4 separate regions of the Homo sapiens genome follow, and all the other regions are reported to be linked to region 4. Evidence: microRNA targets listed by miRTarBase, many of them from high-throughput screens and not tested one by one. Region 4 holds a microRNA gene; each other region holds the end of a gene's coding sequence.

Region 1 (4,000 bases), not on the chromosome of region 4:
TAACTTCCAGGGTGAGGTAACAGCTTTTCAGGGGAAGGAAGATATGCCCCACCCCCACACAGAGATACTGTACCCTCCCTTCCAAAACACACTACCCCTTCTTTTCTCAACTGCTCTGCAGGGCTTGGTTTTTCCTTACCTTACCTCCCCAGGAATCAACCTTTCCTGTCCCTTTACCTCTAGGTTTCTATGGGGCTAGCAGGTATCAACCAGAAGCTGAAGACTATCTCCATTACCAACCCTTTCTCCCCACAGGTATAGACAAGGCTGAGCAGGGTTCCTGTGGCCCAGGATGGAGGCCACCGCTGCCCTGCCATCCCGTCTGCCTGCCATGGGACGGCTCCTCTGAGTGTTCCCTGGCCCCACGTGTGTGGTGTTTGTGTGTCTGTGCCTGGCCAAGGGAGGTGCCAACACTGGGCTTGCCACAGCCCCAGGAGAGGAATTTGGGGCCTAGGAACCGAGGGCACACGGGACTCTAGCCTCATCCCCAGGACCCCCTTGGCTCAGAGTGTGGTGCTAGAAACTGGCCCCCAGCCCAGCCCCAGTACTGCCACCTTTACACCTACCCCTGCAAGTCCCCAGAGGGCTGCCCACGATAGAAGCTGCCAAGCAGGGAGAACCTGTGCCAACTGTGGAGTGGGGAGGTTGGGCCTGGACCCTCAACCCCTGCAACCTTCCCTAGCCCCCTCAATAGATGAGCAGGTCAGGCTGTGGCCCTTACCTCACCCGCAGTTCTCGCCCAGTGCTGCAGCCGGCTCACCTCTCTCCGCTTCTTGCACATCACTGGCCTGTGTGTGCTGCTTGCTCCTGTTCTGTTCGCTTGCTCCCGTTCCGTTCGGCTTTTGCTTTGCGTTAGGGTGAAGACCCTAGCGTCCAGCTCCCCTCAACGCTATATTTTGACACTAAAAAAGAAGGTTTCTAAATTGTAGGAGCAGGATGGAAATACTTTGCTGCCCTTGCCATCTTTTAGGATGGGCCCCCAGGAGACTGAGGTCTTCCTGGGCCCTCATTGCTGCTTATCGTACCCCCCATCACCTGCACATGGGACAGACCGGGCTGGAGGGTGACCTTGGCTGTGTGCGTCCCAGCAAAAGAGCTCTGGCCCGCATCTCGCTGTGCCCTGAAGGGGGATGAAGGGCGATGCCTCGCCCGAGGCTTTGGGCTGCTGCACTGCATGCTGGGACTGCTCCTACTCTCTGTCCCACCCCTCACCCAGCTGTGGTCCGGCTTTGGGAGAGTGGTGAATTGCGCTGCCCGAACTCGGAGCGGAGCAGGGTAGGGACCGTGTACAGCTTGATAACCCTTAATAAAAAGGGAGTTTGACCAGACTTCTTGTTGTCTCGCGCGGCTAGAATCCTGGGAACAAGAGAAATGGGATGGGGACTCTGCCGGGGTCTAGAAGAAAGTATGTTTAGGCCGTCGCTCAGATACGCTGAGCAAGGCGGCTGGCGGAAGGGCAGCTTCCGACCCACAGTTCCGTGGAGGTCTGTGTCCTGCCCCGAGCCAGGATTCCGTGAGGTCTGTTTCCAGCCCCGAGCCACGATTCCGTGGAGGTTTCCAGCTCGGCCTGGTCGTCAGATTTCCCGCCCTGGGCACGTGACCAAGCCGGCTCTGCTTCTCTAATTTGCATTCGTTGCCTGCACCATTCCCCCCGCTCCCCCCTCGGAGACATTTGGCCAATGGGAGCCGTGGGTAGGGGCTGTGGGCGGGGCTACAGCCGTGGAGCGCGGTGCGAGTCCAACACCGAGCATTCCCGTGGGCCTGCAGTTGGCAGGAGGGTCCCGGGCCCAGAGCCAGCGGGGCCGTGCTGAGACGGCGTACGTGCCCTGCGTGAGTGCGTGGCGGCGGCGCGTGCGCTAGGGGAGTGGGCGGTGAGGCCTGGTCCACGTGCGTCCCTTCCCGGGACCCCCGCAGCTTGGCGCCCAGCGGCTACGTGAGCCAAGGCACCCGGATGTCCGCGCCCCTCTCCGAGTGACCAGTCCCGGCCTCCGGTCCCGCAGTGCCCGCAGCCTCGGCCGGCGTCCACGCATTGCCATGGTGACTGTGGGCAACTACTGCGAGGCCGAAGGGCCCGTGGGTCCGGCCTGGATGCAGGATGGCCTGAGTCCCTGCTTCTTCTTCACGCTCGTGCCCTCGACGCGGATGGCTCTGGGGACTCTGGCCTTGGTGCTGGCTCTTCCCTGCAGACGCCGGGAGCGGCCCGCTGGTGCTGATTCGCTGTCTTGGGGGGCCGGCCCTCGCATCTCTCCCTACGTGCTGCAGCTGCTTCTGGCCACACTTCAGGCGGCGCTGCCCCTGGCCGGCCTGGCTGGCCGGGTGGGCACTGCCCGGGGGGCCCCACTGCCAAGCTATCTACTTCTGGCCTCCGTGCTGGAGAGTCTGGCCGGCGCCTGTGGCCTGTGGCTGCTTGTCGTGGAGCGGAGCCAGGCACGGCAGCGTCTGGCAATGGGCATCTGGATCAAGTTCAGGCACAGCCCTGGTCTCCTGCTCCTCTGGACTGTGGCGTTTGCAGCTGAGAACTTGGCCCTGGTGTCTTGGAACAGCCCACAGTGGTGGTGGGCAAGGGCAGACTTGGGCCAGCAGGTGAGGGACTCTGTGGGAAGGGGGAAGCCTCTGCTGGCCGGGCTTGGGAGAAAGCACTGCATGTCCAGTCACACTGCTTCCAGGCTTTAGGATGCCTCTAAGCAAAGGGAGAAGGGAGGGGCTGAGTCCTGCCGGGAGCTGATAGCCAGCTGGTGGGGTGTGTCTTTGCTGAGTCACTGTGGTTTTGCTTTTTTTTTTTTTTTTAAGCCTGTAAGTGCTGAATGTGTTCATGACACCAGTCCCCGGCCCTATTATAAGTAGTAATACAATGAAATTTTATCCTCAATGATACTCTCTCCACTTATATTTCATTCTAGGTTCAGTTTAGCCTGTGGGTGCTGCGGTATGTGGTCTCTGGAGGGCTGTTTGTCCTGGGTCTCTGGGCCCCTGGACTTCGTCCCCAGTCCTATACATTGCAGGTTCATGAAGAGGACCAAGATGTGGAAAGGAGCCAGGTACACCTCAGTTTCTTTTTTTTTTTGGAGACGGAGTCTTGCTCTGTCACCAGGCTGGAGTGCAGTGGCGTGATCTCAGCTCACTGCAACCTCCACCTCCCGGGTTCAAGCGATTCTCCTGCCTCAGCCTCCTGAGTAGCTGGGACTACAGGTGCATGACACCACACCCAGCTAAGTTTTGTATTTTTAGTAGAGACAGGGTTTCACAGCATTGGCCAGGATGGTCTCGATCTCTTGACCTCGTGATCCGCCTGCCTCAGCCTCCCAAAGTGCTAGGATTACAGGCGTGAGCCACTGCGCCTGGCCTCTTTTTGTTTTTAAGACGGAATCTTGCTCCGTCACCCAGGCTGGAGTGTAGTGGCGCGATCTCAGCTCACTGCACCCTCTGCCTCCTGGGTTCAAACAATTCTCGTGCCTCAGCCTCCCAAGTAGCTGGGATTACAGGTGTGTACCCGGCTAATTTTTGTATTTTTAGTGGAGATGGGGTTTCACCATGTTGGCCAGGCTAGTCTTGAACTCCTGACCTCAGGTGACCCACCTGCCTCGGACTCCCAAAGTGCTGGGATTACAGGCATGAGCCACTGCACCAGACCCCACCTCAGTTTCTGAATCCTGGAGTCTCTTCATTTCATTCCCTGTCATCATTCCTTCCCCCAAAATGAAATGCTTCTTTTCCAAATCTCAGTTTGCAACTTAGTTTTTCTGACCCCATCAAGGATCACTTGTGGGTCTGAGATACCTGGGAGCTGTAACCCCATAGGTTTTTCCCTGAAGGGTTTCTGGCTAGTGCACTTACTTGATTTCTGAGCTCCCTTCCTACGTGTTTCACCATCCTAGGTTCGGTCAGCAGCCCAACAGTCTACCTGGCGAGATTTTGGCAGGAAGCTCCGCCTCCTGAGTGGCTACCTGTGGCCTCGAGGGAGTCCAGCTCTGCAGCTGGTGGTGCTCATCTGCCTGGGGCT
Region 2 (4,000 bases), not on the chromosome of region 4:
GACCCAGTCTGCAGAGCCCTTCTTAGGGTTGCCTGGGGGGAGCAAGAAAACCTGGAGCTTTCTTTGCACACATTTAATAATGGATCACTCAGTCCTTCACACTTTACTGAGAGAATCATTAGACTCAGGTGTCCAAGTCATCAGCTTGCTTTGAACTAGAACTAAACCTGCCAGTTGTCTGCTGAAGACAGAAATGACTCTTCTGGGCATGTAGGGGAGAGGACATTGTGGTGGTGGGGAGGGGATATTAATTTTGTCGATCTGGATCAGGTTTGGAGGGTAAGGAGGTTTAGATTACCAAGCTCCCCTAGAGGGCAGGGGAAGTGGCTTTATGGGCACAGAGTCCCAGGGGATTTAGTAGAGAGAACTGTTAAAGGCCAGTTTCTCTGCTATAAGATGTTGGGAGTGACTGGGCGAGGCTGGGGGTGACCACTGGTGCAGGCCCAGGATGGGGGCTACTTGAGTGTGCAAGAGAACCTCTTTTCCTCTGGTACCCCAGCTGGGACCGCAGCCAGAAGCGACGCAGACCCTCAGGGCAGCAAGGTGCCCTGAGGCAGGAGGAGAGCCAGCAGCCACTGACAGACCTGTCCCCGGCTGGAGTCACTGTGCTGGGGGCCTTCGGGGACTCACCTACCCCCACCCCTGACCATGAGGAGCCCCGAGGGGGACCCCGGCCTGGGATGCCCCACCCCAAGGGGGCTCCAGCCTTCCAGTTGAACCGGTGAGGGCAGGGGCAATGGGATGGGAGGGCAAAGAGGGAAGGCAACTTAGGTCTTCAGAGCTGGGGTGGGGGTGCCCTCTGGATGGGTAGTGAGGAGGCAGGCGTGGCCTCCCACAGCCCCTGGCCCTCCCAAGGGGGCTGGACCAGCTCCTCTCTGGGAGGCACCCTTCCTTCTCCCAGTCTCTCAGGATCTGTGTCCTATTCTCTGCTGCCCATAACTCCAACTCTGCCCTCTTTGGTTTTTTCTCATGCCACCTTGTCTAAGACAACTCTGCCCTCTTAACCTTGATTCCCCCTCTTTGTCTTGAACTTCCCCTTCTATTCTGGCCTACCCCTTGGTTCCTGACTGTGCCCTTTCCCTCTTCCTCTCAGGATTCCCCTGGTGAATCTGTGATGCCCCCAATGTTGGGGTGCAGCCAAGCAGGAGGCCAAGGGGCCGGCACAGCCCCCATCCCACTGAGGGTGGGGCAGCTGTGGGGAGCTGGGGCCACAGGGGCTCCTGGCTCCTGCCCCTTGCACACCACCCGGAACACTCCCCAGCCCCACGGGCAATCCTATCTGCTCGCCCTCCTGCAGGTGGGGGCCTCACATATCTGTGACTTCGGGTCCCTGTCCCCACCCTTGTGCACTCACATGAAAGCCTTGCACACTCACCTCCACCTTCACAGGCCATTTGCACACGCTCCTGCACCCTCTCCCCGTCCATACCGCTCCGCTCAGCTGACTCTCATGTTCTCTCGTCTCACATTTGCACTCTCTCCTTCCCACATTCTGTGCTCAGCTCACTCAGTGGTCAGCGTTTCCTGCACACTTTACCTCTCATGTGCGTTTCCCGGCCTGATGTTGTGGTGGTGTGCGGCGTGCTCACTCTCTCCCTCATGAACACCCACCCACCTCGTTTCCGCAGCCCCTGCGTGCTGCTCCAGAGGTGGGTGGGAGGTGAGCTGGGGGCTCCTTGGGCCCTCATCGGTCATGGTCTCGTCCCATTCCACACCATTTGTTTCTCTGTCTCCCCATCCTACTCCAAGGATGCCGGCATCACCCTGAGGGCTCCCCCTTGGGAATGGGGTAGTGAGGCCCCAGACTTCACCCCCAGCCCACTGCTAAAATCTGTTTTCTGACAGATGGGTTTTGGGGAGTCGCCTGCTGCACTACATGAGAAAGGGACTCCCATTTGCCCTTCCCTTTCTCCTACAGTCCCTTTTGTCTTGTCTGTCCTGGCTGTCTGTGTGTGTGCCATTCTCTGGACTTCAGAGCCCCCTGAGCCAGTCCTCCCTTCCCAGCCTCCCTTTGGGCCTCCCTAACTCCACCTAGGCTGCCAGGGACCGGAGTCAGCTGGTTCAAGGCCATCGGGAGCTCTGCCTCCAAGTCTACCCTTCCCTTCCCGGACTCCCTCCTGTCCCCTCCTTTCCTCCCTCCTTCCTTCCACTCTCCTTCCTTTTGCTTCCCTGCCCTTTCCCCCTCCTCAGGTTCTTCCCTCCTTCTCACTGGTTTTTCCACCTTCCTCCTTCCCTTCTTCCCTGGCTCCTAGGCTGTGATATATATTTTTGTATTATCTCTTTCTTCTTCTTGTGGTGATCATCTTGAATTACTGTGGGATGTAAGTTTCAAAATTTTCAAATAAAGCCTTTGCAAGATACTCGAGTCCCCTGGTTCTGCCTTCTGACCCCCGTAGAGAGGAGGAGAGGGGTGGGCAGCTAGGAGGAGGCACAGGATGAGGTGGGGACCCCCTCTAGACCTAAGTCACCTGCCCTCCTCTGACCTGGAGCTGGGGGCCAACTGGGGCTTTAACTTGGGACAAAATGGAAGGGAGCCATCCTGACGAGGAGCAGTGGTACAAGAGAGAAACTAGAATAGAAATCGTGGCTCACTTATTCCTTGCCAGGGAGGGTCAAGAGAGACCAAAAAAAGGGAGACAGAAGAAAAGGAAAGTTACATGGAAGGATAGGAGGTGGATCAAGGCGGAAGAGAGACCTGATAAGACAGACGGAGGGAGAAGGGGGAAAGGAGAAGAGAAAAATGGAGCAATGGAGAAAAGATGAGAGGGAGCCAGCCATCCGAAAGAAGCTGCCCTGCTTGGTTTATTTTCAGCTTTGCTCCCTAACCTGCCCCCACCCACAGCTGCCCCCCAAAAGCTGTGCAGAATCAGAAGCCCTGTGGTTAACTCGTTAGCTTTCCCTACTCTGCCCTCTCAGAGAGAGGCACTGCAGGGGTGTGGGGGTGGGATCAAGGGGTGTTTTTGGGGAGGGAATGCAGGCTGCCCAGCTGGGATCAGTCACCTCTCAGTCCCCAATTTCTAGGTTTGGCTCTTGTAACAGCCCTGTGAAAACCCACACATCAGCCTCTCAGCTGTTGCTAGGCTCTATTGCTATGGTAACCACCCAGGTCCCATCTATCCCCCCTCCCCCAATCTGTGCCCCACTTGCTCCCTGGAAATGCGGTGGCCCCAGGGAGGATAGGGATGATGTAGTGTACAAAAGGGTGGCCTGGGCTGCTCTGGACTGGATATGCCCCCATGCATTTATCTTTCAAGCTAGGTTAGGAATGTCTGTGTGTTGGTAGGTGTGTGCTTTAGGTGTTGGGAGCTTTACTGTGAGCTGAGGGAAGTGTGGCTGAGCCTGTGCAGCACATAATGCTGAGTGCCAGGAAGAGGCAGTGTATTTCTCAGGATTAGAGCAGTGTGTGCATTCAGGGCGTCACACTCCCTAAGAAAAGGACTGCTACAAGGGAAAGAAGCAGAGCTGGGCCAAGGATTGATGAACCAACTCAAAGCAGAGGTGCCCGGCAAACAAGCTTCTGAGGAGTCAACTCACTGGGGGCATGAAGATATCCCAGCAGGTGGCTGATGGGAGAGCGGGCTGGATAAAACCTGAGGGTACAGGATGAGGCATGGATGGTATACACTGTGGGCCGTGAGGGAGGGATCCAGATCCAAGGAGGGTGGGATAGGAAGCTTCATTAACCTTTCCTTCTTTCCCCACAGGAATCTAGTCCTTGTCAGGTGAGGGTGGGGAGAAAAGAGAAGCATTGGCACAGAAGGGGAAGGAGCTCAAGTGCCGGAGAGCACACTGGGCTCTCACCTTCAGCAAGGATCTCTCTTCAAAGGGACAGTGTGACCCGTGGCTCATCCATATGCAAAAGGCAAACATGAAGGCCCCTAATGAAGAGGGAATTAATTACTGCCTGATTAGACCACTGTTTCTCTAAATTTAAATAAATTAAAATACACCAGCAAGGTACTGGAAATCCTCACCTGTTCCCTCTTCCTAAATGTCCTCC
Region 3 (4,000 bases), not on the chromosome of region 4:
GTCTTGGAGAGAAATTGGCAGGCACCCAGTACCTCCCTTGGTCGAAGGCTGCTCCAGGGTAGTACAGTTCTCTGGCCAGCCGGTCTTGCCAGGCAAGTGCCTGAGCCCTGAGGAAGCAAGAAGGCTCTCTACCTGCAGTCAGAGTCTGCTCTGGGAGAAAGTACACAGTGCGTTGTGATCCCCTTTAATCTCTCTATTTTCTGTTTGTAGAAAGTCCATGAGATGCTGAAGAAGGGGTGGGATGCTGAAGGTTCTCCCTTCCGAGGCCAGCGATTCGACCCTGCCATGTTCAACATCTCCCCGGGGGCTGTGCAGTTTTAATGACCAGAAGGAAAGGAAACCCTCGCCGGTGGGGAGGCAGAGCCTTATCCTCGGCTGCCCTTCTTGGCTCCCTGCATTCCAGGGACTTGCTCGTCTTGTTTACCCCTAGCCATCCTTTCTTTCAAGGGTGAACCAGGCCTTCCACCCTGACCTTGCATCTCCAGACTGTTCCAGAGAAGGTGCGGGGCCAGCTGCTATGTGGTGGCCGCTGTGGCTGACACTGAGTGAAGGTGTTTGAAATGCAGGAGAGGATATCCCAGCAAATTGGGATCACATGCTTTTGTCTCCACAGCAACCAGCCACTGCAGGCAGCATGTCTTTCCTCCCCTGCTCTCTGCTTGCTGTTGTTTTGACGCTATTCTGCTTGCATGTCTTCTGGTTGGGATGTGGAGTTGTTGCTGGACTCTCAGGCGAAGCTGAAGTCATTGAAGTGTGTGAAGCTCTGTGCTTGCATGAGGGCAAGCAAGGAATGGCTGTGCCTGAGGCTGCTCTGGGAAACTCCTTGCCCCTTGACCTCTTTTGAGAGCATTCACGTGGTCTTCTTGCTCATCCCCTTATAAATGTGCTTTGCCTGCCTCAGCCTCATGGTCAGAGCAGTGGAGACTGGAGCCCTGTTTGCACGTTCTAGTTGTTCGGAGAAAGCCTAGGTTCTGGGCTCAGGTCCAGATGCAGCGGGGATTCTGTTCTCTGACTGTGGCGACCTTGCTTTGGTTCTTGTTGAAGTGAACCAAGCCCGGCCACCACGCATGGCATGCTGTGCTTGGCTCCCCATAAGACGTCCTCTTTGGGTGCACGGTGTCAAAGTGTGGGCAGGAGTGGAGAGCTGGTGCCCTCAGGAGGAGACCACAGCATGTCCATCAGCTCAGCAGAGCTCGACAGCCACAAGTCCTGAGAAGCTTTGACCTTGAAGGGCTTCTGGGAGAGGAGGAATTTCTGCATGGGGCGTGAAGGCACACTGTCCCACCACAACTGAACCAGAAGAGAGTGAAGACTCCCCTCTTCCCATCCTCTGTGCCAGGTGCCAGACTGTGCTCCTTGGAACTTATGGCCCAATCTTACCTGTTCTCCAGGGACTGGTCACTGCCTCAGGACCCCCAAGCCTATGCCCTGAGCCATGGCTGCTGACTGACTCCAGCCAAGGTGCAAAGACGAGATTATGAGACAGGTCCTCAGGCCTGTGTTCCAAGTACTCACAGGGGCTCTGGGTGCCCATCGCCGGGAGTATGGTTCAGCTGCCACCGGCACTGTCCATTTGCCTGTCTGTCAAGCTCAGAGCATGGATAAGCCACACAGCAGGGCAGTGCACCCTGGCACCATGCACGGCCAGCAAGAATCAAGGCCCGCAGATGCTAAGAGGGCCTATTGTCAGGGGAAGGTCCCCGCTCCTGCACACTCTCTATGGATACTTGGGTTGTGGGGGCTCTCTTGGAGAGTAAGTTTGTGGTTTGTTTCTGGTTTACAGTGGTGGCTGACACCCCTTGTAAGAAAGCATTCCTGGGAAGTCTTCTGTGGGTCCAAACATGTTGCTCCGATCATCACAGGAGAGCAAAAGGCCCTAGATACCCCCTTTGGAATGTGAGAGTCTTGTTGTCTGATATTTGCCACTGAGCTGGTGAAGCCCCTCTAAAGAGATCTCGACCCTGGGGAGCAGAATTCTTGTCATCTATGAGGGGTCCTGAGAAAGACTTGTCATTTTTTTTCCTGGAGTTCTTCCCATTGAGGTCCTAGGATTTGCACACCACTGTCCCACAAGAGCTTTCCTGCCTAATGAAAGGAGGTCTTGTGGTGTGTGTCTCCTCTCTTCTCTATAGTTCCCGAGTTGGCCCCCATTGCAGCCCCCACCCTGTGGGTAGTCTTCCAGAAGTGATGCAGTGGTGTGAGATGCCCTACACCTTGTTATTTGGGAGACTTTGAGAGTCATTCACTTCCATGGTGACTAGTGTTTGTTTTGCCTGATTTTATATTCTGTGTTGCATTTCTCCCCACTCCCTGCCCTGCTTTAATAAACAGCAAACCAATATCTAGGAAGAATGACTGAGGGATAGTATTGGGTATTGGCCCCATGGCAGGAACAGCCACTTGCATCTGGTCCCGGTGCCACACTGCGGTGCTTGGTGTGGTTGTGGAGCCTGTCCCTGCGCGCCTTGCTCCCGTTGAGCCACGCTGTCTGGTGGGTGATTCTCTGCCCTGAGCCACCACCCTGGACTGGCCCAGTCTCCAGAGCTGGCACACCCTGCCTGTTTTCTCTTTTTAGACACAACAGCCGCAGTTTGGCCAGCCACTAAGTCCCACCAGCTGAGGTCCGAGGAAAGCGGGGTGACTCATTTCCCTTGTCCAGGGCCCGAGGAGAGTGAGGTGTCCAGCCTGCAAAGCTATTCCAGCTCCTTGGTGTTGGTTTGCAATAAATTGGTATTTAAGCAGTTCTGGGTCTGCGTGTGACATTTGCTGCTGAGACAGTTCTGTCTGTGCATGGTCATTATTGTTGCATTCTAGCCTTGAGGTCCCAGGCCAACGTACACAGCAAACACCAGCATGGGGAATTCTTAGGGGTTGTTTCCCATCTGGTCTGAATGCACTGGGCAAGATCTCAATACAGCTTTAGAAATCCTGTAAGATTTTGACCAGTGGGGAGAAAAAGAATGTAGCTATAGATCTTACATCCTTTCAAACAGGTTCTGGAATTCTGTAGTTACTGGAAAGCTTAGGGTGAGTGCAGAGTTGGGAATGATTCCACTGAAGGGCCACCTTTGCCCACCAGGCTCCAAGGCCCTCCTTGGTCTCCAGGTGCATACCTGCTGTTAACTTTGCTGAGCCCTCGCAATGGGCTTCCTCCAGGACATAACGCCGTGTCTGACACAGAAGTCTCCCAGGTGGCTGGCCACCTGCTTCTTCCTCAGTCAGATCTTTGACTCTCCTTCTCTGTGCCCACCCCATCTCCAGCCTCCTCTGACCCTGCTCACCCCTGGGGACAGGACCTAGGGGTGTGAGAAGTACTTGGCTGAATAAAGACTGTTTCAAAGGCAATCCTTAGAATTGCCTAGCATACTCCCAGGGCCAGAAATAACCCGCCAGAAAGGAGAGGCGTATTTGCCCCTGAAGAGTGCAGGAGGGAGAACAGTTGAGAAGTGTTTTGTGTGGAAATGTGTCCAAGAGGCGTCAGCTGCTGCACAGAGAACTCACTGCCCAGAACACTGCGCTTGGGGAACAGACCTCACCCCCACCTCAAATCTGCTCTCCACTGGGCCTGTTGGCAGCCAGCTCAGCTGGGGAAGGGACAGCATGACTCGCTTTGTCGATGAAAAGCACGAAGTTGTCAGCACAGAACCTGGCCAGTCCTTGAGAAACTCCCTCCTTGGTGGTCAGAGGTCAAGCAGCCCATGTGGCCCACGGTCCTGAAGAACTGGGCTATGTCCCTGAGGCTCCTCTCTACCGTCTGACTGTGGGGTCTGGGGAACAGGCATTTAAACCAGGCTGCTGCCCTGGGGAGTGCCCACTGGACGCCAGGGTGCCCCATAGGGACAGGGTCACAAAGCCCTGGGGCTTCCCCTGCCAGTCCTGGTGAGGACAGTGTGGTCACTATCTCAGAGAGACGAAAAATGAATATTCTGTCATTTCAGACTAAACTACTCACCCAGCTCACACTAATATGGATTTGTTAATTTTACCTTTTTTTTTCTTT
Region 4 (4,148 bases):
TTAAACCTCTTTAGAAATTACCCATTCTCAGGGAAGTTTTTTATAGCAGTGTGAAAATGGAGTAATTCAATGACCCTTTCTTACTGACTCATTGGTCTGATTTCTTGACCAAAGCTCTGAATATTCCCATGTCATCCTGTCTAACCAGCTGTCTTATACTCTTTTTTTTTTTTTTTTTGAGATGAAGTCTCGCTCTGTCGCCCAGGCTGGGGTGCAGTGGCACGATCTCGGCTCACTGCAACCTCCACCTCCCGGGTTCATGCCATTCTCCTGCCTCAGCCTCCCGAGTAGCTGGGACTACAGGCGCCCATCACCATGCCTGGCTAATTTTTTTGTATTTTTAGTAGAGACGGGGTTTCACCACGTTATCTTATTCTTAACAGTGTCTGAGGTATTTTTTTGAAACACAATTCTTACCTTAACTGCCCCAGGCACCACGGCAGAAGAACCATGACCTTGCTGAGAGGCACTGCATGCCAAATGAGACTTAGTTTTTCCAAAGTACTTGGGAGAAGAAAAACAATAATCTATATGATGGGCTTTTGGCCTAAACCCATATCCTTTAGATGACGGAATTTGGCACAGCTCATATTCTGGTTTAAAGAAAAATGTTTTGTTATGATGTCATTTGCCTAATTAATAGCAAAAGAGGATTGAATTTTCCCTATGCAATGTCATCTAGCCTTTGAGATTTTAGAGTTAATGACTCAAATCAATTGTCCTGTCTTCTGTGAAACCTTCCTGATGCCTTCAGTTGGATAAATCTACCCTTGGTGTTCATAAGGCATTATATTGATGCCTCTGATGTTATGCAGATATATCCCTTCTTGGCTTTGTTTGCCCATTCAATGAACATTTGTTGAACACCACCTATATGCCAAGATAGTTGGAAGATGGAAGTGTGGTACACAGAGGATGTGGAAGGGAATCACAGAAGATGAGACTATGAAGGCAGGCCCTTCAAGGACTTTCTAAGTAGTACTCAGGAGTTTGACAAAGAGGAGCTAGAAGAGGTTTGTGAAGTCAGATGAGTAATATAATTAGGTTTGTATTTTATGAAGGGCAACATCTAAATATGGCTTGTCTATTCAGCAAGCACTTATTAAGTGCCTTTTGCATGGTAGACAACATGCTTGATGCTGAAGATACAAGAAAAAATTTAAAATGGTCCTTGCCCTCAAGGAGCTCACAGTCTATTGAGTTACCTTTCTGACTTTCCCACTAGATTGTGAGCTCCTGGAGGGCAGGCACTTTCGTTCATCTGAAAAAGAGCTTAAATTTCAGTGTTAATCCTAGATTACAATCCCGCCTCTATTATTTTAACTTTGTTCACATCTGTTAACTGCTCTGAAAATCAGAGCTAATACTGCCTACCTCATCAGGGAAAGATTAAACGAGAAAAGAATGAGATGTGATTGACACAGCAGGAGCTCTGTGTATGCTATTTCCTCCTCTATCTCTGTGCCTGGTACATGGTAAACATTCAGGACACTTCTGCTGCCTGCTTGGCTGGAGAGCCTGTCTATGCAGCCTCAGTGTTGGGAGGATTTGAGCCTGGGGTCGGCCTGGCACCCAGCTATGGTAGTTAGCAAATCTATCCTCAGCTCAGTCAGTGATCAAATCACTGGCTCTAGGCTGTAAACTAACAGGGCCAGAATTGGGTTCTGGACTCTGAAGCCCAGGCATGCATATTGCAAAAGTCAGAATCGAAGTCATAGGAAAATGATGAAATTTCCTTTCTGGCCAGAATGCTATTATTTCACCAAGGGCAACAAATCTTCTTGGCAGGAAAAGTTGACTTGCTTGTGCTTTGTGTAATCAATTGTATTTGCAAGTGATGGAGTCCTTCTCACAGTGGCTTAGAGGAGGTGTTAACCACTATTCTACTCTCTACTTCCATGAGATCAACTTTTTTAGATTCCACACTTGAGTGAGATCATGCAATATTTATCTTTCTGTGCCTGGCTTATTTCACTCAACATAATGTCCTCCAGGTTTGTTTGACATTTCATTGTTTTCGGAGAATTTTCACAGTTCATTATCTCACTTCACAGTTCCTAATAGTCTCTCTGAGGTCCATATGGTAAGAATTAGTACCCTTTACTATATTTGTTGAATCACAAGTGAGCGGAGGAATGGGTATAGTTGAGACCCACAGAAGTGAAGTGACTTGCCCAAATCCATATAGCTTATTATGCTACCTGTTTGTTAGAGGTTTCCTGTTGTATCAGAAACTAGTGAGATAAATATTAGTAATTTTTGTCCCATTGACACATGATGGTATATCAGGAATTCTGAGCTCATTTTTTTTTTTTGGCTCAATAAGTGACCTTAGAAAATCCAGAATGGGATTTTTAAGTTGAATATCCTTCTCTGACCTGTGAAATCACTGCATCTGTTTCCCTGACTTTATCACAAGGTAACCCAAGATATTGCCAATATTTACATGTGACAAACTCTGAAAGATGTGCATAATGCTCCCAAAGGTCATCATCTTCATACCTACCTTATAAAGTGCAAATGGAATTGACCTAGTCTAGAATAAGCAGGCGAGATGCAGAGAGATTATGTGACATAGCTAGGTCATGTGACTAGTATGCAGCAGGCTTGGGGCATAAATCCTAGTCCTCTGGCTCCCGAGTCCAGTGTTCATTACGCTATGTGACATGTCAGTATTGCTGTTTGCTCGGGGTTAGGCTTTTCCTTTGGAGGTTAGAGCTTGATAACTCTAAATCGATAAACTTCTTAGTATGCCACAGTAATGCTAGCAGAAAGTATTTGTTGAAGCAAAAAATATGTTGTTTCAAGGGGTCTGCTCCCTGAAAGATAAGTTTTTTTCTTTATTTGTGGTTTTACATCTAATTTTTCTAATGTTTCAAAAAACATTCTGTGTTCCTTTAATCTACAAGTTGGAATGGATACGGTGCCCTAATTTTCGTGTTCCCTTTGAGCACAAGCAATAACACATTTTAAAGGATGATAAATAGCTGTGTAAAATGTAGATGGGTTCTATAAATACTTACCAAAATCCCTGTAGTCAGACCCTGGTAGAAGGAGAGAATAGTCAAAGTGTTCTCTCTTTCCACATTCTTCTTCTTCTTTTAGGGGTAGTTTGGTAGTTAAGAACACAGTTGCTAGACCCAGACAGACTCAGACTTGAGTCTTGCCCTACCTGTACTACCTGTTAGATTTTAGGGAACTCCTTAATTTTCATGGGCCTCTATTTGTAGAAGGATGCTAACAATATTATGTGTAGTTTTTAGAACATTCATCTAGTATAATCCCTATACATTTTAAGTAGGTAATTATGGGTTATCTCTCATGACTGTTTTTATCTTCATCTGAGACCCTTTCTTTCTTCCTTTAAGATACTTCTATCCATATTTTTCCCTAGAGAGAAACAGTATTAGCTACTCCTGCCTGTCAGTTTAAGCTACTGTGTCATGACTATTTTGCATTTCTAAGTTTATCCTTACCTTTATCATCAAAGTGCTGACTAATGCAGTATCTGCCACCTTGTGCCTGCTCAGTAAATACAATTTGGGTTAAACTTTATTCATTTTTAGTTATGAGTGCAATATAATGACATAGCTAAAAGTTCGAAAGTAGAGAAGGGATAACAAATAGGTACTGATAATGCCACTCTTGTAATACTACATGTAGCTGACTGGTGAAGGCCATGGACTATAGAGTCATACTGGAATCCAGGCTTCAGTGCCTTGAGTGCTCTACTTAGAAATCTGTGCTTTAATTTCCTTAGCACTGAATGAGGGCAATAAAAGTAACCACCTAATCAAGATGCAGGGTGGATGAAATACATCTGAAGCATTTGGAGTAAGGCCTGGCCCAAAGGTTAGCTGTAATAATAAAAAGGTGGATGGTGACGATGTACATGATGATGGTTTGTGTGTCCCTTTATTCATATTGCCATTCACAAATTACTTGAGTAGTCCTACTTCTCCTGTTTGGTTTATTTGTTGCAAGAAACATGTGCATTAGAAGATTGAAGATGATTGCGCCCACTTGAGGAAACCGGACCCAGAGAGGTGAAATGATTTCCTAAATAGCACCCAGAAAGTTTATGATAGAGAGGAACATAGAACTCTAGCAGCCAGGCTGCTCTATTCTTATTTTCTCTATACTTTTCT

Evidence for each region. Region 4 holds the annotated microRNA hsa-miR-28-5p (AAGGAGCUCACAGUCUAUUGAG, at 1,180-1,201, shown strand). A microRNA usually pairs through its seed, bases 2 to 8, with sites in the 3' UTR of a target mRNA and lowers its output. Matches are read on the target gene's strand: a 7mer-m8 pairs with bases 2 to 8, a 7mer-A1 pairs with bases 2 to 7 and ends in A, and an 8mer does both.
Region 1: miRTarBase lists ATG9A as a target of hsa-miR-28-5p. Seed matches in the 3' UTR shown: 7mer-A1 at 1,186-1,192.
Region 2: miRTarBase lists PIANP as a target of hsa-miR-28-5p. Seed matches in the 3' UTR shown: 7mer-m8 at 867-873 and 7mer-A1 at 2,245-2,251.
Region 3: the mRNA of NUDCD3 is a reported target of hsa-miR-28-5p. Seed matches in the 3' UTR shown: 7mer-m8 at 2,701-2,707.

What each region holds. Positions count from the first base shown.
Region 1 is chr2:219,216,708-219,220,707 of GRCh38, reverse strand. ATG9A (autophagy related 9A) reads left to right here. Exons shown (of 16, transcript NM_001077198.3): 16 at 256-1,328. The coding sequence ends at 261. It overlaps ABCB6 (ATP binding cassette subfamily B member 6 (LAN blood group)), which reads left to right and starts at 1,750. Exons shown (of 19, transcript NM_005689.4): 1 at 1,750-2,583; 2 at 2,901-3,038; 3 at 3,876-4,000. The coding sequence starts at 2,035. RefSeq lists a silencer at 2,311-2,420 and an enhancer at 1,666-2,533.
Region 2 is chr12:6,692,151-6,696,150 of GRCh38, reverse strand. PIANP (PILR alpha associated neural protein) reads left to right here. Exons shown (of 5, transcript NM_001244014.2): 5 at 500-2,360. The coding sequence ends at 725. Among named protein-coding and RNA genes, the nearest start is that of ZNF384, 4.8 kb to the right of the region's middle.
Region 3 is chr7:44,382,332-44,386,331 of GRCh38, reverse strand. It overlaps NUDCD3 (NudC domain containing 3), which reads left to right. Exons shown (of 6, transcript NM_015332.4): 6 at 211-4,000. The coding sequence ends at 321. Among named protein-coding and RNA genes, the nearest start is that of CAMK2B, 59 kb to the right of the region's middle.
Region 4 is chr3:188,687,615-188,691,762 of GRCh38, forward strand. MIR28 (microRNA 28) reads left to right here and starts at 1,167; the gene lies at 1,167-1,252. The region is part of intron 7 of LPP (LIM domain containing preferred translocation partner in lipoma); the gene reads left to right.